Regions from separate parts of the Homo sapiens genome. Here regions 2, 3, 4 and 5 are each linked to region 1. The links come from fine-mapping of genetic effects on gene expression. A gene starts in region 1. Each other region holds a variant in brackets. All regions are shown on one strand. Distances are between the middles of the regions. Region 1 holds the start of SLC25A37 (solute carrier family 25 member 37). Region 2 overlaps SLC25A37 (solute carrier family 25 member 37). Region 3 overlaps ENTPD4-DT (ENTPD4 divergent transcript). Region 4 has its middle 50 kb from the start of SLC25A37. Region 5 overlaps SLC25A37 (solute carrier family 25 member 37).

Region 1 (4,116 bases):
TAAAATATATAATATAAAATTTATATAAAATATATATAACATAAAATTTATATAAAACATACATAAAATATAAAATTTATATATATAAAATGTACATATTTATACATAAAATGTATATATATTTTATATATACACATGGATATGAATGCTGAGAGGCTAAGTAAAAAAATACATTTATATATACACATATATCTATATATATTTATATACACAAATCAACATATTTTATATATGTACATATGTGTATATTCTATATCCTATCTATATATCTTATACATATGCACATATCTATATTCTATACATATATACTTCTATATATAGATGTGTGTATGTATGTGTAAATATGGTATATATTTCCTAAAAAGAATGGTTTTTTATTTTTAAATTACAGAAATAATAAAAGTATTATTTAAAGTCTGAAAAATAAAGTCAAAGCAGTTGCCTATAAGCCTCCATCACTAGCACAGTAACCATGCGATTCTTTTCCTGAGCACATTTACATCTTTGTGAATGCAATGGTTATAGAATTTCGTTTTGTTTTTTTCACCTAACATTACATTATAATCATCGTCCATGTCGTGTAATGTAAATTCCACTTGTAAAGGCTGCATAATATTTCACTAATATTATGCACACATCATAATTTCCTTAGCCATTCCCTTCTGGTTGACCATTTAGGTTGTTTCCAATGATTTACTGCTCTAAGGAATGCTTTGAAGAAGAGCTTCCTGTGTATTTGGGTTTTTGTTACATTCCCAGAAGTGGGGCAGTGGGTTCTTACAGACTTAATGCTTAAAGGGCATCCACTTAAAAATAAGGATCAACAGCTTCTGATCAGTATTTCTTAAAAACGACCTTTGACAAAAGTAGAGTTTTCTCTAGCCATTACAGAGATGGCTAAGTAAAAACACAGAGCCTGTTTTTACTTATCACATCCTTAGCACTCAGCTTGCCAGCTACTATCTGCAGCTACCAAAACTAGGCAAACAGTGCTCTTGGTCCTGACGCCTCTATTGACCTCTACCCATGCTCACATTACTGTATCTCAAATCCCTAAGAGCTGCTTGGGATGCTGATCACGGTGAGGGCAGAGAGTAGGCTCAGCCTCTTCAGGGTCTTCCCCACCCTTTCATATCTCAGGATCCAGCTTTCCTGACGAGAAGCCTTGTCTAGATAAGGCAGGGAGGCCCTGGTGCCTACAAGTTGATCAGCCCAAGTCATCTTAAGCCCTGGAACACGCAATTTAGACGGACACTTCCAGAGGCAGACAGGTCCCTCCCCTACTTTCTGATTTCTCCCTTTTTCCCCAGACTGGAGCAAAACAATATTAAAACAGCCTGGGTTACACTTTATTGAAGAGGCCAGCTTAGGACGACTTTAAGAACTAGGTGACCACAGTCTTAAGACAGGCAGGGGCAAGGCTGTAAGATTTTACTCTCAGCCAGTTCACACTCCTAACTGTGAGATCAGGCCTCTACAGACCTTATGGGCCTATCAAACCCAAAGAAAATTTCCTGGAGGTGCCTACTCAGAGGGGCTCCCTCCTGGTCACTCCTTATAGCCTTGCTCGGTCCAGGGCAGGGTGGGTTCGGTCTCTCGGTGAGAACAAGAGGAACACATTTAGCTCTGCATTATGTATTTAGGTTGAGAGAAACAATTTCGAATGAATGGGGGTCTCTCCAACAAAGCAGTCTAGAACGGGCCCCTGAGGTTTGAATTCAGGCCTTAGGAATGCCAAAGCTCACTGAGCGATTCTGTTTGCAAACCCACCCGCCACGGGGACGGATTTTCCCCGAGACACTGTCACCCATGCCTCCAGCTCTGGGCATACCCCACTGCGGCCCCTCCCCAATGACCTCCCCTGCCCCTCGCGGACCAGCCCATCCTCAAGATAGTACAACTTTCCGGGCCACCCCACGTCTCCTCTCGCCCCCGTCCGGTTGCTTGGAAATGTGCACGGGACGGTGACGTCACACAGGGAGGCGGGTCCCCACTGTCCCGCACACCAATGGCGCGGCGGCCGCCGGCCTCTTGGTTCCCGGCGATTGGTGTCTCTGGCCGCTGCGCTCCACCCCAGCCCGCCATGGCGTCAGGCGCCGCGGCCCCGGGGAGGTGGCTCCCACTTTAAGAAGTGAAGTTTTGCGCCCCTCCCCCTCCCTGCCCACCTCCTGCAGCCTCCTGCGCCCCGCCGAGCTGGCGGATGGAGCTGCGCAGCGGGAGCGTGGGCAGCCAGGCGGTGGCGCGGAGGATGGATGGGGACAGCCGAGATGGCGGCGGCGGCAAGGACGCCACCGGGTCGGAGGACTACGAGAACCTGCCGACTAGCGCCTCCGTGTCCACCCACATGACAGCAGGAGCGATGGCCGGGATCCTGGAGCACTCGGTCATGTACCCGGTGGACTCGGTGAAGGTGAGGCGCGGGGAGACTTCGGGGACGCAACGAGCGGAGAAGGAGCGCGCGCGCGCATTTGCATCCCGCGCGCCGGCAGCCTCGGGGCAGCGTCCCGAAACCGAGCTCTCCCCAGGACCGCGGCTGGCCGGGGTCGCCCCAGGAGCAGCTGCGCGCAGCCTGGGCGCCGCGCCTTCCGCCGACCCCGCGAGGGTGCCCGGTCCTCGCCCCGCACCGCCCGCTGCTCCAGCCGCGTGCCCGGCCCCGGCTGCTGGCGGCGCTGAGGCGGGGGAGGCGGAGTGGCGAGCACCGCTGGCTTCGGCGGCGACTGGGCTCCCGGGGGACGCGATCGCTGAAGCTCTGCACAGTCTTACCACGCTGGCCGTTCGGGCTGGCTGGGGCCGCCCACACGTGCGCGGTTTCCGAGGGAGCTCCCCGCAGGGGAAGCCCTCACCACGCTGGAGCTGAGAAACGTGTGGCCCTGGCCCGGCCGCGCGCCCTCGGGACTTGGTGTGTGGCTGCTGCTCCCCGGGTTATTTCGGGAACTTGGGGCCGGCAAGTCTTCTCTCGACTAGTGGCAGCTCTTTACCGGTTCGACAGCGGCCCGTGGGATCCCCTTTCTGAGGGTTCCTGCACTTCTTCCCCCGACTTTGGGTCGCCGAGCCGCCGGGAGGCAATGACGTTTGCCTTCTCCTTTTGCTTGCGGGGAGGTGGGTGGGCTTGTGCCTTACAGCCCTTGCTGTGGATTGTGTGAGAGGCACTCAGTTTCCTTTAAACCCTGTCTGTCACTTGCCCCGGTAGTTTTAACTGCATTTCTGTAAAGAGGCAGCGTTACTAGGTGCGTTTTGCCTGGTAGACTGAGACCTGCCCTCTGTCAGCCTGCCCAGAACACCCCAGGGCCAGGATAGAGTAGTGCAGGAAGTAATGCCAGTATTGACTGTTACACGTTGCACTTTTATAGGCATAACTCGCCTAATTCATGCAACAGCCCTGGGGGTTAACAGATGAAGAAACTGAGGCGCAGAGAGGCGAACCGATTACCTTGCCCAGGCTCCTACACCACCTCCTATCCTCTGGCTGCAGCTGCAGTGTGCTTTGGAGGATTCGGAGGCCTCTCTAGGTGGCAATTATTTTGCAAGGCAGGTCCCACAGAGGCACCCCCAGCAGCTTTATCTTGTTGCTGATGCTGGTCCTGCATGAGCAGGTATGAAGGCCAGAAAGTATAACTCAGAGGGTTTTCCCGGCTCCGGGGAGCTCGCTTGGAGCCAGCAGTCAGTGTCTGGACAGGCAGAAGTCCAGTGAGGAAAGACATGGGCTTCCAAGGTGCTGCTGGACCTAAGCCTGAGCCATCACCCATATGTCCCTCCAGTGTCCCAGTGGGGAGTTAGAGGAATGGTTCTCATCTCCAGGAAAGACACTGGACTGATACCAGGTGGCATTTGTATGGGAAAGAATCCCTCAAATGTAATAAAATTCTCCATGATTGAAGCTGTTGTCTCAACTGCCCTGGGCAGAGTCTGGGGAAAGTTAGGAGCAGGGAGGTGTTATCTGAGCAGGCCCTAGTCCTACTGGTGTCTTGAGATGAATGTTCTATTCGGGAACCCCACAGTGAGTTCACTTTAGAGCATCATTTTAGCTTATTTTTAGGATTAGAAATAATTAGTTGTGCCTTCTGAGCACCCTTTGACACTCTCAAGAGGCGTTTCTCACACGTTTAAATTGTGTGA
Region 2 (4,116 bases), 34 kb after region 1:
AACAGAATGATGCATTTTGGTTCAGTAGTGTTTCCTCCAACTGCTCTACCCCTAATTTAAAAAGGGGAGGGGGTGAGAAATCAGTCCCAAATGTCCCTGTAAGTTTTGGTGTGATGCCAGCCTCCAACTGGCTGACATGAGCAGTTTTGTAAAGGAGAGACCCTCTTGATGGCTTCACGTATATCATGGGGTGGGATGGGGACAGTCATTATTGACAGCCAGCCTGTGCCAAGTGTTTCCCAGCAGCTCTCTGGGCGATTATTCCAGCCAAGGATGGCCATGCCCTAAGGTTAAGGAACCTGCTTGAGGTCCCAGAGCTGGAATTGAGATTGACAACCTCAGGCTGGGTGGCTGTACAGCCTGGGCACTCTCTGTGCCCCCTGCCCTCACTCAGCCACTCCCTCCATAGGTCACCAGGGGTAATTCCCTACTGCCCAGGCAGAGGGCTGGGGCTGGAAGGGGTCTAGATGGTCACTTAGTGGTTCCCCAAGCTGAGTCCTGATCAAAATCATCTGGGGAATTTTAAAAAGAAAAAGAAGACTTGAATCAGTGTGTGCTAGGGTGGTGTCTATGGATGGGTATTTTCAAACATTTCCCGGGTAACTCTGATCTTCAGCCCCTGCTCTGATCCTCCCTTTCATTTTCCAGTCCAGGACACTGGGGACCGGAGAGATGAGATGCCGTGACCAAGGTCACTGGGTTGTAGCCAGAGCCAGCATCAGGTCCAAAGTGCGATCTCAGTAGCCAGTTCTCCATGCTCTGTGTTTGTTCAGACTGCCAGCCCTGCTCAATGGGGCTCTGGAACTTAAGGAAGGCCTTTGACCATAGGCTGGGCTTGCAAAACCTTGGTAGGACCCTGCCCTTGGCTGGAAACCTCAGGGCTCCAGCCAGGGCTCATCCCCAAGAAGATACACTGCCATTCTCCAAAGTGTGGGGGCCTCTCCCCTGAAGGGCGCTGCCTGGAGCCACCTCTTGTTCACAGGCCCATGTTAGGCCCCCTGGGACAGGTTGCCTTGGCTCCATATGTGGTTCTGCAGATCACACCCAGGCTTGAGAAATGCGGTGACACGTGAACTTTGCATTGATGTGAAAAGGTCCAAATTAAAGGTGATGGCAAGCACAGCTAAGTCCAAGAAAGTGTGGCTCCTATTTAGGGGTGGTGGGCTAAGAGACAAGACACAGTACCCTTTCACCCCGGTGGGTATTCTAAGTTGGGTTAGTTTGTTCATCAATTCATTCATTCAACAAATATTTATTGGGTTCCCAATAAATCATCTTACTGGTCCTTGGAGATCTGCTGTGAACAAGACAAACACAACCCCACCTCTGTGGCCTGCACAACCCTGGAAGGTCACACACTAGAACCCTATCACTTGGCCTCTCCATGAATCACCGTCATGTAGCCCCTCGACAGGGGACTCTTGTGTTATTACTGACAATATTGATGGTTTTAGACACATATTATCCCATTTAATTTTCCCAACCATTCTCTCAAGTGGGGAAACTCAAACTTAGAAAGTTTAATGACCTTGCCCAGGGTCACACCATGAGTGATGGCATCTGAATTCAGCCCCAGTTCTCTCTGATTCCAAAGCTGGGGTTCTTGACAGCCACATTGTACCACCTGGTACCCTTGCTTTTTGTCAGGGGCAAGTATAAGAAGAAGGCAGGTGACACGTGAAGCTTTATTTGCTCTAAAACTTGAGCGATTTCATATGTCCTAAAGGAGGAGTTTTGCCTCTTCCTTCCCAGCATGAACACTTGGCATGGTGTGTACATCTTCATTCGTTTGGTCTGGCCAACAGCCACTCGGGAGCTGAATGAGGTGTTGTGACCATGACCTGGGTATTCTCTTGGTTCA[G/A]ATACCTTCTTGGTTGGCACATTCACTTTCTCGTCCTTCCCTTGGTCTTTCTTGCTTATAATATATCCCTTTTTTAATTTTTAATTTTTTTTAAGACAGGGTTTTGTTCTGTCACCCAGGCTGGAGTGCAGTGGCACAAACATAGCTCACTGCAGCCTCAAACTCCTGGGCTCAAGGGATTCTCCCACCTCAGCCTCCCAAATAGCCAAGGCTACAGAGGTGTGCCGCCATGCCTGGCTAATTTCTTATTTTTTTGTTGAAATGAGGTCTCAGTATATTGCCCAGGTTGGTCTCAAACTCCTGGCCTCAAGCAATCCTCCTGTCTTGGCCTCCCAAAGCGCCAGGATTACAGGTGTGAGCCATCACACCTAGCCTAATGTATCATCTTATTAAATCAGATCAAATCCTTTTTGAAAAGACTTAAAATTGAAATCACTTTAAAAAACGAAAGGATGCAGGGCTACCCTCCCTGGGACCCTGGGGCCCAGGTGTCTTGGCAGCTGCCTTGGGCTGGGCCAGAAGATGTTTTTGCCAGTCTGTGGTAGGAAAAAGGGTGCAGAGTAGCGAGTTTTTAATAAAGCTAAACTGGCCGGGTGCAGTGGCTCACGCCTGTAATCCCAGCACTTTGGGAAGCCGAAGCAAGTGGATCTCGAGGTCACGAGTTTGAGACCAGCCTGGCCAACATAGTGAAACCCAATCTCTACTAAAAATATAAAAAATTAGCTGGGCGTGGTGGAGGGCGCCTGTAATCCCAGCTACTCAGGAGGCTGAGGCAGGAGAATCGCTTGAACGTGGCAGGCGGAGGTTGCAGCGAGCCGAGATTGTGCCACTGCACTCCAGCCTGGGCAACAGTGTGAGACTCCGTGTCAAAGAAAAAAATAAAAATAAAGCTAAATCTAATTTAAAGTACCATTTTATAATCAGAGGTAGTCTTCCTTACTTTTTTTTAAGCATTAAAAATGCCCTTTCTTTTACAAAATCATGTTTGTGGTGGAGGGCAGTGGTGATTGTTGCTTATATTGTTATTGTTTTTGCGTCCTTTCTGGGCAAAATAAAAAGTTTGCCTTGGTGTGTCCATTTCCTTTGTGGTTTTAATAGCTGGTGAAATCTGAACTATGAAAATGACCACTAATTCAGGTGATTGGTTTTCACCGTTCCTCCAAGCCCTGGGGTACCTGGGGCTCTCTGTCCCGGTGAGTGAGAGGGAGCCCCAGAGAGTCCTTTGCCCATCTTCAATCAGAGAAGCCCTCCTTTTTTATATGTAGGATTAGATTTTTTTTATGATTTTGTTTGGAGATAAAAGGATACCCCTGCCAAAAGTTGAAAAGCTTCTCCTCTAGGATGTGTGTTGGGGGGGAGTGGGGGAGGGAGGGAGTCGGGGAGGGAGGAAGGGAAGGGTGGGAGGAAGGAAAGGAGGGAGGCAGGAAAGAAGGAAGGGAGGAAGAAGGAAGGAGGGAATGTAGTGACTTTGGTGGGACTGAGCCATGGTGGATCTTCTACTTGGCGAGTATTTCTTGCCTATATACTAGTCAGAGTTCTCCAGAGAAACAGGTAATAGGATGTGTAAAGTCTACTTGGGTTTGTAAGACCAGCCTTTGGTTGAAGACCTTCCTTGGGTCCTAGCAGACAGAAACCAGGAGAGACAGAGACATCTATATCCGGCTACATAGAGAGGTTATCTGTCTAACTCTCTGCCTGTTCTCTATCTATATCTGTCTGTCTGTCTGTCTGTCTACCTACCTACCTGTCTCTGTCTGTCTGTCTGTCTACCTACCTACCTATCTAATCTACCTACCTACCTACCTATCTGTCTGATCTACCTACCTACGTACCTACCTACTTAGAAATTGAGAGATTTACTTTGAGGATTGACCCACATGATTGTGGGGACTAGCCAAGTCCAAAATCTGCAGGCTGGAGATTTAGGGAGAGCTGATGTTACAGTTTGAGTCTGAAGGCAGTCTGGAGGCAGAATTTCTTCCTTGAGAGAGACCCAGTTTTTTTCTCACGAGGCCTTCAGCTGATTAAATGAGGTGTATGTACCCACAGTATACAGGTTAATCTACTTTATTCAGAGTCTACTGATTTAAATGTTAAACTCATTTAGAAAATCCCTTCATACATACATCTAAACTAGTGTTAGATCAAATATCTGGGTACTGTGGCTCATCCAGGCTGACCCATAAAATTAACCATCACACCTGTGCAAGCGCTTTTCCCTCCTGGATGGTGTCCTAGGGATGACAGAGGAGGGG
Region 3 (4,116 bases), 46 kb before region 1:
CGTTCTGTGCCCATGGCCACAGTGGCTCACAAGCATCATCCGCAGCCCAAGAGTGAGGAGTCAGGGTCCTGTCACTGCCACCAGCAGGCAGGGGTGCTGGGGGCATTCTGATCTGTTAGCATGTGGACAAGGAGGCGCGTAAGCTGCCCCCGGGGACTCACCACCTCTTTTAATTAATAGGGAAACAGTCCACTCAAGAAAAAGAGAAAACCTGGGAAGTTCTTTTTCCTGAATTAAGACAAGGCCTTAAAACCTAAAGGGCAGAACACCGGAAACAGTTTTGCTTCCAGGTCAGGCAGTGGGAGGAACTCCAGGCCCCGAGTGTCTGGGCTTCCTAGGTGTCTTATAATCACAATCACCACTGTGAGAATTTTCATGGCCATGATTTATTTAGGTTTTACAAATTCTGTAGGAACTGGGTTCCACAAACCTCCAGACCTGCTCCTCTTTCCCACCCTACCCCACCCTTTGCGGGGAGCTGCATGGTTCTAAAAAATGGTCCATTGGACTCTGTAACTGAAAAGCCACCTGGCAAGGGGCCCACTTTGATGGGTACCAAAGGGCCTTGGAGTGTTCTAGCCACAGAGCTGTGTGCAGGCACAACAGAGGGCCTGGTGGGGCTGAGCCAGGCCCCCTGACAGGTGGCTTTCTACTTTAGGTCCAAGCTTAGAACCTGGCTCTTGGCCAGTCTGGGGAAAAATAACTCACTTCCTAAGCTACATCTGCAAAAATTGCAAAGGCTGAGTACAGCCAGCATTTGAGGCTGAACTTGCTGCTGTGTTGAACGGCACGGAGGCACCCCAACGTCTCGCTGCCTCGCATTTCAGGATGGGCCAAACAATGAATTTCTTATTCTTTTAGGAGAGGTCTGATTTTGACAAATTATTTCTAATTTAATATCACAGTGCATAGCTCTCCTCTCATCAAAGGTCTTCATGATCATTTTAGGGAGAAAAACCAAAGAAAAGTGAGACAAACAAAACTGCCCCAGGACTTGGTGCTGGCAGCCAGCTCATCACCCACATGGGGATCCGCAATAGGGGTCAGCTGGGGGCCCTCAACCAGCACCCCGCTCCTAAGCACGTCCAGATTTGTCCTCACCCATGTCCCTTCTGGCAACTTCCTGGTCAACCTCAACCCACCCCTCTGCACAGCCTTGGGTGGGCCGCTGAGGGCCATGAGTGAGCTGGGGCCATGAGTCAGCAGGCAGGCCGGGAAAAAGGGCCTCAGGAGACTCATCTGGTTGGTCCCAGCCAGAGCCACCACACACAGCCTCTTCCTCAGCTTCATCTCTGCTGAGAACTCTGCAGCGGCCACCATGGATGTTCTGCAGAAGCCAGGCCCACTGAGTCTGCAGCATGGGGCCAAAGGCAGGCCCAGCATATCCCGTGAGCCACAGAGTGGGGGCAGCTCTGAGCCCTCGGCCAGCACAGGGACATCAGACCCGTTTCCCCCACTCCTCTACCCAGGGCGCCACCAACAAGGTCTAGGACAGACAAAAGACTGACTTCCAATGGTCCACACGTGGATTCCGTGGTCTGGCTGCTGGCCTCCCAGGGACCCAACCCTTCTGAGCCAGAGGGGTCACTCTGGTCCAGTCAGTCCTTCCTCCAGGGACATAACGAATCTGGCTCTGCCTGAATCATCGATGACAGGGCAAAGGCAACTGGAGCAGATGGGAGCTCTGGCAAACACGGGAGGAGGGTCTTGGAAGAGCCCCCGTCCCCAGCGGCTAGATGCTTACACATGGACGATCTACTCTCCTGACTGTGGCTCATCAGGCTGGTGCTACCATCTGTGGTTGTAAAGGTCCAAAGAGGGCTACGGAAAGGACAGGTGGGCTGGAAGGAATGTGGAGAATGACCCCAGGACAGGGGAGGAGGAGACTGGCCCCATCAATCCAGTTCACAGCCGGGAAAAGTGCAGGAAGACAGACAAACGACCCCAATGTGGGCGAAGGACACACCTCCAAGGACTGGAGCCGCAGAGTCCACGTGACAAGGAGACCCAGGATAGAAACACTGTGCGGAGGACACGGTGTCAACCTCGGAAGGGGCCTCCTATGCTTTCCACACCAAATTCCCCCACGGGAGAAACCCTGCCACAAGGCCCAGGAAACCACAGACCCCAAGCCAACTGTGCCTAGCACAGACACCAAGGAATGACAGCGATGCCAGTGACGCCAGGAGGACTTGGCCCCTAGCCCCATCATCGGCTGTATGATGATCGGTGTGTCTGCGGCCTCCCTCTCGTCAGACTGCAGCCTTGGGGGACACGTAGAACTCTGTCTCCTCGCCCTCAGGGGCCTTGAGCTTACACTTCCCGCAGCACAGCAGCGGTTGAAGCAGCACCACAGACAGCAGCAGCAGTAGCAGCAGGTGAGGAGGCTGCAGAAGACAAACAGGGCCTTGGCCCCCCC[G/C]GCTGGACAGCACGAGGTAGGTGTTCACGTTCTCTTCCCCAAACTGTTCGGCCAGGTAGAGCCCCAGCGAGCCGTAGTTGTCATAGATGTTCCTTTATGTGGTGTCCGTCAGGATGGCTTGGGCCTTGTTGATCTCCTTAAACTTGTCTGCGGCCTCCAGGTTGTCAGGGTTCTTGTCGAAGTGATATTTCAACGCAAGTTTCCGATAGGACTTTTTAATGTCATCTGAGGTTGCGTTCTTGTCCAGCCCAAGACTGTGGCACAATGATTCCCCAGAGGTAGACAGTGAACGCTGTCTCTGGTCTGCCCTGTTAGGCTAATCTGCCCATCCGCCCGCCCTCCCGCCGGCTCCATGGCTCCTGCTCCCCGCTCTGCGACGCTGCTGGGCAGTGGCCAACGCAGTCCTCAGCCTGGAGACCCTGGGTGGCGGCCGCAGCGGCAATGGCAGAGGGCGCCGGTGCAGCGCTCACAGCGGCAGCGGCAGCGGAGACGCCGCAATTATTTTAAAATAAAAAAATACCTACTCTATGGAAGGGAGATTGATGAGTTGAGTTTCTCTCTTCCTGGGGTTGGGTGGAGACAGGACTGATAAACTGCTGTCCTTATTCAAGGGCCTCAAGGCCCTACCCCCAGAGTAGAGGCTCCCTCGTTCCGAGTTGTCACATAAAACAAACTCCCTCCAGCCAGATGCAGCCTGGGCCCTTGAAAGCTCAGCTCAGGATGTGGGTCTCTCCTAGGGTTGCTGGAGATCTTCAGGAAGATAGGGAGTGGCCTTCTCTCAGCACTTTCTTCCCCAGCCTGCTCCAGCCACAAAAGTCCCCTGTCAGGTTCATTACCACCTTCTCCTATTCCCTTCCTGTGAATGCTTCTGTCAGCAGTTTTTTTGGTAATGATGATGGTGATGGGTGATAATAGCTTCCTGAGTTCTTATGACAGGCCAATCATGTTACACAGAGCATTTCTGAGAATCTTCACAACGTTCAGTATGTACACACCTTATGAGACATGCACAGTTCTCCTCATTTTACGGAGGAGAAAGCTGAGATTTAGAGATAAATTGATTTCCTCCAGATCACATTGACAGTTACTGGCAGATCTAACTGACTAGCTCCAAGTCCTTGCTCTTAACCCTGTCTTGATGTCTTAACCCTCCACTTGAACTCTAGCCTGTAATGCTGTCTTCTCCTCCTGCAGGAACCAGCCCATTATTTAAGGTGGACATGACTTTTTTTTTTTTTTCCCCAGGCTGGAATGCAGTGGTGCGATCGCGATCTCGGCTTATTGCAACTTCTGCCTCCTGGGTTCAAGCAATTCTCCTGCCTCAGCCTCCTGAGTAGCTGGGATTACTGGCATGCGCCACCATGCCTGGCTAATTTTTGTTTGCTTGTTTTTGTTTTTTGTTTTTTGTTTTTTTGAGACTGAGATTTGCTCTTGTTGCCCAGGCTAGATTACAGTGGTGCGATCTTGGCTCACCACAACCTCCACCTCCCGGGTTCAAGCAATTCTCCTGCCTCAGCCTTCCTGAGTAGCTGGAATTACAGGCATGCGCCACCATGCCCAGCTAATTTTGTATTTTTAGTAGAGATGGGGTTTCTCCATGTTGGTCAGGCTGGTCTCGAACTCCTGACCTCAGATGATCCCCCAGCCTCGGCCTTCCAAAGTGTTGGGATTATAGGCGTGAGCCACTGCGCCTGGCC
Region 4 (4,116 bases), 50 kb after region 1:
AGATTTGCTGAGAGGAAAATATGAAAAGTAGAACCCAGTGTCAACCTAGGGGGCCCTTCTGTGGTGCCCCTCTTAGTTTGCCACCTGCCTCCTCATGGAGGCATCTTTCTATCACTCAAGAGCCCTCTCCAGCACGACCACATTCAAATTCCAGCCCTAAAAAGGCCATGAAAGGAAGGTATACCTTTCCTCTAGGGGCAAGGTCTCCTTACTGAGTTGCATGTTTTCTAGTTATCAGCTACCTCTTCCAGGAGAGACCTCTGCTCCTACCCAAGGAGGGGACTTAATGTGACAAACATTTCAGAGAAGAAGTAATGAGCCTAGTCTTGTACAAGAGAAAGACACAGCCAACTGGGCAGATGTGGAGGTGGGTTATGATTGCTTGCAAGGGAACAAAGCATTGCCTCTGGTCTAAGTCTGAATGCAGTGAGTAGCCTAAGAGAAATAAGAGCAATTTGGGAGAAAAGAGCTTGGTTTGCATCCATAAGGGCTTTGTAGGAGACACCCTCATGGTAAGTAAGCTGCACATAAGAGCTTTGACTGCCATTGTAAGAAGTTTGACCTTTAAGCAGTAGGTAATGGGGAGTCTTATGAAGAGTATTTGAGCAGGGGACACCATGATTGGAGCTTGGTTCTAGGGAAACTCATCTGGCTAAAGTGTACAGGACCAAGTGAAGAAGAAATACGGAGGAGGCCAGGAGATGGTCAGTTCCATGTCACAGTGAAATTGTCCAGAAGAGGGATGACTAAGAGAAAGGTGAAGGAGACTGAAACAGAATGAGTGGGACTGGATCGATGAGAGTGTAGAGGTGAAGTCAACAGAGGCCTGGGGGCGCAGGACTCTAGGGCATGCTGAGAACAGGCTGGGCTGTCTGAGAGGAGTAGGAAGACCTGGCGGTGAGGACTAATACATGGCGGCAGAGAAGATCCCTCATCTCTAAGTCCATGGGTCTCTCCTTAGTCCTCCTCTTCTTTGGGCATGGAAAACTCATCTCAAGTCCATGGGTCTCTCCTTAGTCCTCCTCTTCTTTGGGCATGGAAAACTCATCTCAAGTCCATGGGTTTCTCCTTAGTCCTGCTCCTTCTTGGCATAGATGCCTGATCTCCAAGTCCATGAGTCTGTCTTTAGTCCTCCTCCTCCCTGGGCATAGACTCCACATCTCTAAGTCCATGGGTCCCTCCCTAGTCTTTCTCCTTGAACATGCACAACACTTGAGGGCTCTCTCTTTAGCTCCCCTACTTGACTTCCATTTCCCTGCTTTCTGCTGGCCTCCCACCTCTATGACTACCTTCTCTGGCCCTTCACCAGCTTCAGCTCCTTTCCGGGCCACCTAAGTATGGCTGCTTGGAAAGGTTCTGCCGCTGGGGATCCTGTCTCTCCACACCCCCTTGGTGCTGATCTGCCCTCCTCTGGAAGATGATTCTTAGATATGGGGCTGTAGCACCCCGATTCTTCTCCTGAACTCCAGATTTCAATGTCCAGTGGCCTGCTGGAGATCTCTTGGATCTCAACTTGTCCTCCATTCTTAAGAGACTATCCCCCCTTGCTGCCAGAGGCTTACCGTGTTACTCAGTTGCTTAAGACCTTCAAGGGCTCTTCATTGTTGATTGAATTTAATAGGCTTTCCTGCATATGGCAGTTCCCAGTTTAGCTTCGTGTGTAAGGAAATGACTAGAGAGAAACAGAATAGGTCAGCAGGATGGTTGTGTAAGACCCTGAGGTCTTAATCTTCTTAACAGGGTGGTGCTGTGCTCTTTGCAGAACTTTGTTCCCATTGGAATGTCTTCCTTTCCTGCCACCTCCTCTCTGCTCATTCAAGTCCCCTTTTCAGGCTGCCTTGAAGATAGCATTTACTACCACATTGTGGAGCTCCTCCTAATTTGCCTGTCTATGTGATCTTTCTTTCCTCTTTGTCAGTATCTACAGCCTCTTTGACAGGCCTCCAACCTGCCATGGCTGACCTCACTTTGCATTTTTGCTGCCTTCTGCCCAGAATTATGTGCCCAGTGAGGGCAGAGACTGTGGTTTATTCACTCCTGTTTTCTCCATAGCCCTCCAGCCTACTGTTTCCCGCATTCTGCATAAGAGTGACAGTTATTGTTCGTTGTATGTAACAAACTTCTGATGTCCT[G/A]TTAAGCTTGAAACTCCTGTGGGACATCCAGGTGGAGACCCCCAGAAGGAAATGCAATATTGGTGGTCAGGAGAAAGGCTGGAACTGGAACAAAGGACCTGGCATATAGGCCAAGGGATGTGGTGGCCAAAGCCATGGGCAGAGGAGAGTCCCTAGGGAGAAAAACAATCTCGTGGAAGGCTTACATTTAATAGTGAAGAGAGAAATGGGAACCAGGAGAGGCTGGAGTGGTCAGAGAGTTATGAAGTAACCAAGAGGTGAGGCTTTTACAGAGGAGGGGTAGTAATCAGTTCTACAAGCTTAGGAGTGAAATATAAGCAACCAAAGCTATTAAAAAAAAAAAAACAAAAACCTACATTGTCTCTCCCTGCTCTTGTCTTCTTTGTTCCCGGTTTGTTTTTCCCTGCACTTACTCTCTTGCCTTTTTGGATTCCCTTTTAAATGTCACCTTCACCAAGTTCAGCTGCTTCCACACCTCCCCCTCCCCTGACCCCCTGCACCCAGCACCATTCCTACTGTATCTAGCATAATATTTCAGAGGCTACCTAAAGGCAATAATTAGACAAACACTCAAAACTGCACATCCCAGGCTTGTTCATGAAAGTGAAAAGCTGGAAAACAAACGATATCTATCAAGAAATTAAATGGTTTATAGACAATCCTGGCTGTCCTGGTATTTTTGTAGGAAAGAAATTTCTTTAACGGTCCCCAGCAACATACCATAAGATCTTTATTCCCAATACATTTATCAAATTTAGGATACTTCTGAGCTTCCCCATTTCTCTGGCCTTGCCTCCTAAAGGTAATGTTATTTTGGTAAACATGTGACCTCTCTTTTATGAAGCCATGGATATTACACAATTCCAGACTTCCAGGTTCCTGTTGCCATAGCTTCTTTAAGAAGCTCTTCTTTCCTTATGCTCATACTTACCTATGGTAGCTTTGATGTTTCATTTTCCATAGTAAGTGAGACTCTGGGCAGAGCACCCAGCACTACTGCTAAGAGGACACAAGGGCCACTTTAGCAGAGACAGACAGCCCAACCCCTGTCCACTGTCAGCAGAAACTCGTCTGTGACAAAAAGTATAAATCAAAATCATACCAGTGATGTTTTAGTCTTCAACCTGAAGCAGTTGAAGCTTGGGTGTCGCCTTGGAGTCCTGGTGTATTTCTATTGTTGTGAAGTGCTCTCAGTGTTGAATGGGCACCCGACTGCAACCTCATGAAGCCCAGAGCTGCAGAAAGAGGGACTGTGGACATCTGGCTTCTTCATTATTGTCATGCTGCCCCTTGGGGTGGCTGCCTTTAAGGGAAGAGGGAGTTTAAAAAGAACAAAGGGAGATATGTACCAAGGGTGTTTGTCCTCATCAGTATGTGAGTTCGTGGAAGGAGTTCTTGCTGCCTGCTGAACAGTGAAAATATTCTCTTGATGGACACCTTTAGCTTGGATTGACAGGTGATAAATATATATCCCAAGATTTCTACGTTGAGCCTAATGCAAGCAGCTGGTGAAATATACCAGCACATCCTCAATCTTTCCCTGATTGTGTCTGCATAAAGTTTAGAAATAAATAATGTGTGTATTAGTTCATTCTTGCACTGATGCTATAAAGAAATACCTGAGACTGGTAACTTATAAAGAAAGGAGGTTTAATTGGCTCACGGTTCCACAGGCTGTACAGGGAGCATAGCCAGGGAGGCCTCAGGAAAGCTACAATCGTGGCGAAAGGTAAAGGGGAAGCAGGCTTGTCTTACATGGCCAGAGCAGGTGGAAGAAAGAACGAGGTGGGAGGCACTACACACTTTTAATCAACCAGATCTTGTGATAGCTCACTATCATGAGAACAACACCAAAGGGGAAATCTGCCCCTATGATCCAGTCACCTACCACCAGGCCCCACTTCCAACATTGAGGATTACAATTTAACATGATATTTGGGTGGGAACACAAATCCAAACCATATATATATATATATATATATAT
Region 5 (4,116 bases), 29 kb after region 1:
TCCAACATCAGGGTGACCTGAACGCTGAAGGAAGTCTAGGCCTTCCTGTAGGTGAGGCAGGGAAAGCCACGTAGACCTGATTTAGTTGAAGTGTTTTCCACCAGGTCTCAACTCTTCATTTTGTCTTGGTATAGCTTTTCTGGCTGACTTTCTAGCAAGCTGGTTGGGCTCTTTGCTTGTTCCAAAATGGTAGTTTTCACCAGAGACTTTTCAGATGAGCAGGAAGCTTTTTTCAGAATGTATGTTCTTCTAACTCTGCTTGAGTCCCCCGCCATGTATTCTGATAGGCATTTGTTTTCCCACCCCATCCCCCACTTTTTTGAAGTGGGGGCAATGACTACTTTTAGGGGAATCATTTTTCTGTTGCTGGTTTCAAAACATTAAGAGCACCAATTTTTTTTTTTTTTTTGCAACAGAGTCTTTCTCAGGCTGAAGTGCGGTGACATGATCATAGCTCACTGCAGCCTCAGTCTCCTGGGCTCAAGTGATCCTCTCACCTTAGCCTCCCAAGTAGCTAAGACCACTGGCACCCACCATGCCTGGCTAATTTTTTTAAAAAATTACTTTCTGAAGAGATGGGGTCTTGCTATGTTGTCCAGACTGGGCTTGAATTCCTGGCAGCAAGTGATCCACCTGCCTTGGCCTTCCAAAGTGCTGGGATTACAGGTGTGAGCCACTGCACCCAGCTCAAATTTTCCTTTTCATTAAAAACATACATATATGTATATGTATGTATATACATATGTATATATGCATGTGTATATATATGTGTGTATATGTATATATGTGTGTATATATGTGTGTGTGTGTATGTATATGTATTATATGTATATTCTCTTTGTGTATTTATTTTTGCCAGTTTGGGAGATGTTAGAAAAAGACACGATTTGGAAACTTCAACTTAGGGATAAAGTTAGTTATACTCTGAGAGCTGCAGTTAAAGGATTATTTGTGCTGCTCTGCTCTTGCCTGCGACGTGTGGGAATGATGCTGAGTGATGTCCTCCTGCTTATTTTGCGTGATTTTTTTTTGAGACAGATTCTCGCTCTGTCACCCAGGCTGGAGTGCAATGGTGCGATCTTGGCTCACTGCAACCTCCACCTCCTGAGTTCGAGCGACTCTCCTGCCTCAGCCTCCTGAGTAGCTGGGATTACAGGCGTGTGCCACTACACCTGGCTAATTTTTATATTTTTAGTAGAGATGGGATTTTGCCATGTTGGCCAGGCTGGTCTCGAACCCCTGACCTCAGGTAATCTGCCCGCCTCGGCCTCCCAAAGTGCTGGGATTACAGGTGTGAGCCGCCACACTTGGCCAATTTTGCATGATTTTTACATGGCTTTTCAAAGGGCCAGGGTGGGACTATCCAAAGCCCTGTTAAGAGTCCCTCTTCTGCCAAGGAGCCTAGGAAGGGAGCAGGTTTGAGTGAGGAAGGCTGGTGGTTTTGGACGGGGAACGGGTGGTTTTGGACGGGTAGTGCCAACGGTTTTTGTGTGCGTGGTGCTCCTTGATGTGGTCTGGGTTTCTGCATTTGTAGTGTGTGCCTTCTAAGGATGCTGGAAGGTGAGACAGGGCTTTCCAAGGCCTAGATGGGGTTTGTGGCTTTACTTAGGAAGACAGTCCTTTCCATAAAGCGTGGTGCCAAATGCTTTTCCTCCTGGGCCTCCTGCTGTGATTTGTGGCGTGGAGTTTCAGTGAGGGAGGGCTCTGCAGGAACCAGCTCCTTGGTCTGATCCTTTCTGGACAATTGTGGATGGGAGTTGGCTTCTTGGTGTCTTGAGAGTGTCCTCAGCAGACCCCAGTGAAGCAGGAGCATAGAGCTCTGGATGGGCTCATGGTGGACATGGGAGAGCTGCTGGCCAGGGGGCTGCAGGGTGAGGCTTGGAAAACAGGGAGGGGGCTGGGCTTGGCCCCGCATTTTACTGTGGTTTATTTAGTGAATGTCAGTGCTAGCTGGGGACAGTTGACAGACAAGAGAAAACACTGGTTTGATTTTGAATTCTGAAGCAGACATTGGGCAGCAGAGGCTAACATTTGGCATTTATCCTAAACTTTCGAGGTGCCCGAGCCTTATTTCCTTTCTCTGGGAGAAAGTCTGGAACAGAGACGGTGCGGAGCAGCCTCTAGGGCTCAGCCCTGGGCCCCCCTGGAGTTGTGCTGCTCATGGTATCACAGTGCTTGTTTGTTTCCTGTTTGTATCCCCATTGCACCTGGCTCAAGGTAGGTGTAAGGCAAATGCTTTAGAATGAGCCAGTGAGTAGATTTCACATGATCGTCTCCTCAGTCCTAGAAATGCCACGTGAACTT[C/T]GAACATGGAAAGTTTTTTATTTTTGAGAGATTGGAGAGGTGGGAGTTACAGGCTGTCTCCAGGTCAGGCAGGGAGTCAGTGGCTGAGTTTCTGATGCTACAGATGGCTGGCTTGGGTGGCATGACCTCTGCAGGACCCCTAGAAGGGCCTGAGGCCCACTACCAGGCTCAGCTTGCCCCCTTCTCTTTTCTTTTTTGGTCCTAGGCCTGGATCAGAGGCTCCTTACCCACAGGATCTTGGACAAGTCATTTTCCTTCTTGGGCCTCAGTTTCCCATCTGAAAAGGCAGGGGCTGGGCTGGATGTGGTCTCCCTAGGGCCATTGTTGCTTCTGTTACATGATCCCGCCAGCTCACCTGGGACAGAACGTGCATTTTCCACTCTCCCTCCTCCCCGCAGTGAGAGAACGGGCCAGTGAGACAGGCCTTTCCTGTTTTGTCATCTTAGGGGAGAATTGGTGTCAGGGGCTGACCCTTCACTTTGTTCTAGCTTTGCTAGGAGTTTGTGGAGACAGTGGATGCAGATACAGACAGAGTTCATATCACTGGGAGTTTCACTGTCCTGGAGCAGATCTGGAGCTGGAGGGGACTTGCTCAGGTCACACTGGGAGTGGCAGTGTCAGGCCAGAGACCCTTGTCTCTTGATTCCCCGGGCAGGACACGTTTCTCCATCCTGCAGGCAGGTGCAGAGGAGGAATGCTTATTCATAGGCAGCACGTGAGGGCTCCTCTCAGCTGCTTATTTGGCACCCTCTTTCCCCTCCAGGGGCCAGCCACACAACCACCTGCCTCCGGCCTGCTCCCCACACAGTTGCCAGAGGGGTCTTTCTGACTCTCTCTGACACCTGGATGTTCTTGGCACTTGCTGCTTCAAGGGCATAGGTTCCCATTGGCTACGGCTGTGTTTTCACACGTGTGTTTGGTCAGGTGTCTCTGGTTATTAAATGAGACAAGGCTTGCATTGCTAAAGACAGAGGTTTAGGAAGTGCCTTGGAAAACCAAGTGAAACAGGTTTCTTTCCGGAAGGATTTCCCAGAGGCTTTAGTATGGTAATGTGCTTATGCATTTCCAAGAGGGGAGAACTAAAATGCAAACGTGGAAACTGATTTTACCGAACAGGAGGAGACTAGAAGCTAGGTCTTGGGCAGGAACTGAAACCTGGACAGGAAAAGAAATTTGTGAAATTCTCTGTCTCCGGTTGTGTGTGTGTGTGTGCGTGTGTGTGCGCGCGCGCGTGTGTGTGTTTATTTTTAATCTCTGCCCTGTCTCTGCATCCTGATTCATTCATTTCCTTTTTCCTCCTCTCCACCCTCACTTCCTTTTCTTGTATTTTTAAAAATTGTAGTAAAATATACATAACAAAATTTCTCATCTTACCCATTTTTAAGCATACAGTCCAGCGGCATTAAGTACATTCATACTATTACACAACCATCAGTGTCATGCATCCACAGAACTCTCCTCATCTTGCAAAACTCAAACTCCTGTACCCATAAAACAAGAACTCTCCGTCCTGTTCCCTCCTCACCCCAGCCCCTGGCTACCCCCATTCCACTTTTTGTCTACAAATTTGACTACTCTAGGCACCTCATATCAGTGGAATCATACAGTATTTGTCTTTTTGTGACTGGCTCCTTTCACTTAGCATGCTGTTGTCAAGAACTATCTATGTTGTAGCCTGTGTCAGAATTTTCTTTCCTTTTTTAAGGCTGAATAATATTCCACTGTATGGATATATTACATCGTGTTTATCCCTTCATCTGGTGATGGACACTTGAGTTGCTTCCACTCACTCCCAGATGTTTTTTCCCCTCT

What was found. PIP is the estimated chance that this variant, and not a neighbour inherited with it, causes the effect. A credible set is the group of variants that fine-mapping cannot tell apart.
Region 2: its variant is the best candidate, but not a certain one, in a credible set for the expression of SLC25A37 in whole blood (INTERVAL, PIP 0.90).
Region 3: its variant is the best candidate, but not a certain one, in a credible set for the expression of SLC25A37 in whole blood (INTERVAL, PIP 0.88).
Region 4: its variant is the best candidate, but not a certain one, in a credible set for the expression of SLC25A37 in whole blood (INTERVAL, PIP 0.51).
Region 5: its variant is the best candidate, but not a certain one, in a credible set for the expression of SLC25A37 in fibroblasts (GTEx, PIP 0.60).

The regions. Positions count from the first base shown.
Region 1 is chr8:23,526,803-23,530,918 of GRCh38, forward strand. It overlaps SLC25A37 (solute carrier family 25 member 37), which reads left to right and starts at 2,154. Exons shown (of 4, transcript NM_016612.4): 1 at 2,154-2,410. The coding sequence starts at 2,201. RefSeq lists enhancers at 1,848-1,897, 3,188-3,257 and silencers at 2,028-2,387, 2,438-2,687.
Region 2 is chr8:23,561,252-23,565,367 of GRCh38, forward strand. All of the region lies in intron 1 of SLC25A37 (solute carrier family 25 member 37), which reads left to right. Among named protein-coding and RNA genes, the nearest start is that of SLC25A37, 34 kb to the left of the region's middle. The variant G/A (reference allele first, on the strand shown) is at 1,862.
Region 3 is chr8:23,480,806-23,484,921 of GRCh38, forward strand. ENTPD4-DT (ENTPD4 divergent transcript) reads left to right here. Exons shown (of 5, transcript NR_186533.1): 3 at 1-2,435. It also overlaps the pseudogene LOC646708. Among named protein-coding and RNA genes, the nearest start is that of ENTPD4-DT, 25 kb to the left of the region's middle. RefSeq lists an enhancer at 795-1,763. The variant G/C (reference allele first, on the strand shown) is at 2,420.
Region 4 is chr8:23,576,737-23,580,852 of GRCh38, forward strand. No RefSeq gene overlaps it. Among named protein-coding and RNA genes, the nearest start is that of SLC25A37, 50 kb to the left of the region's middle. The variant G/A (reference allele first, on the strand shown) is at 2,133.
Region 5 is chr8:23,555,838-23,559,953 of GRCh38, forward strand. All of the region lies in intron 1 of SLC25A37 (solute carrier family 25 member 37), which reads left to right. Among named protein-coding and RNA genes, the nearest start is that of SLC25A37, 29 kb to the left of the region's middle. RefSeq lists silencers at 3,139-3,228, 3,539-3,598. The variant C/T (reference allele first, on the strand shown) is at 2,305.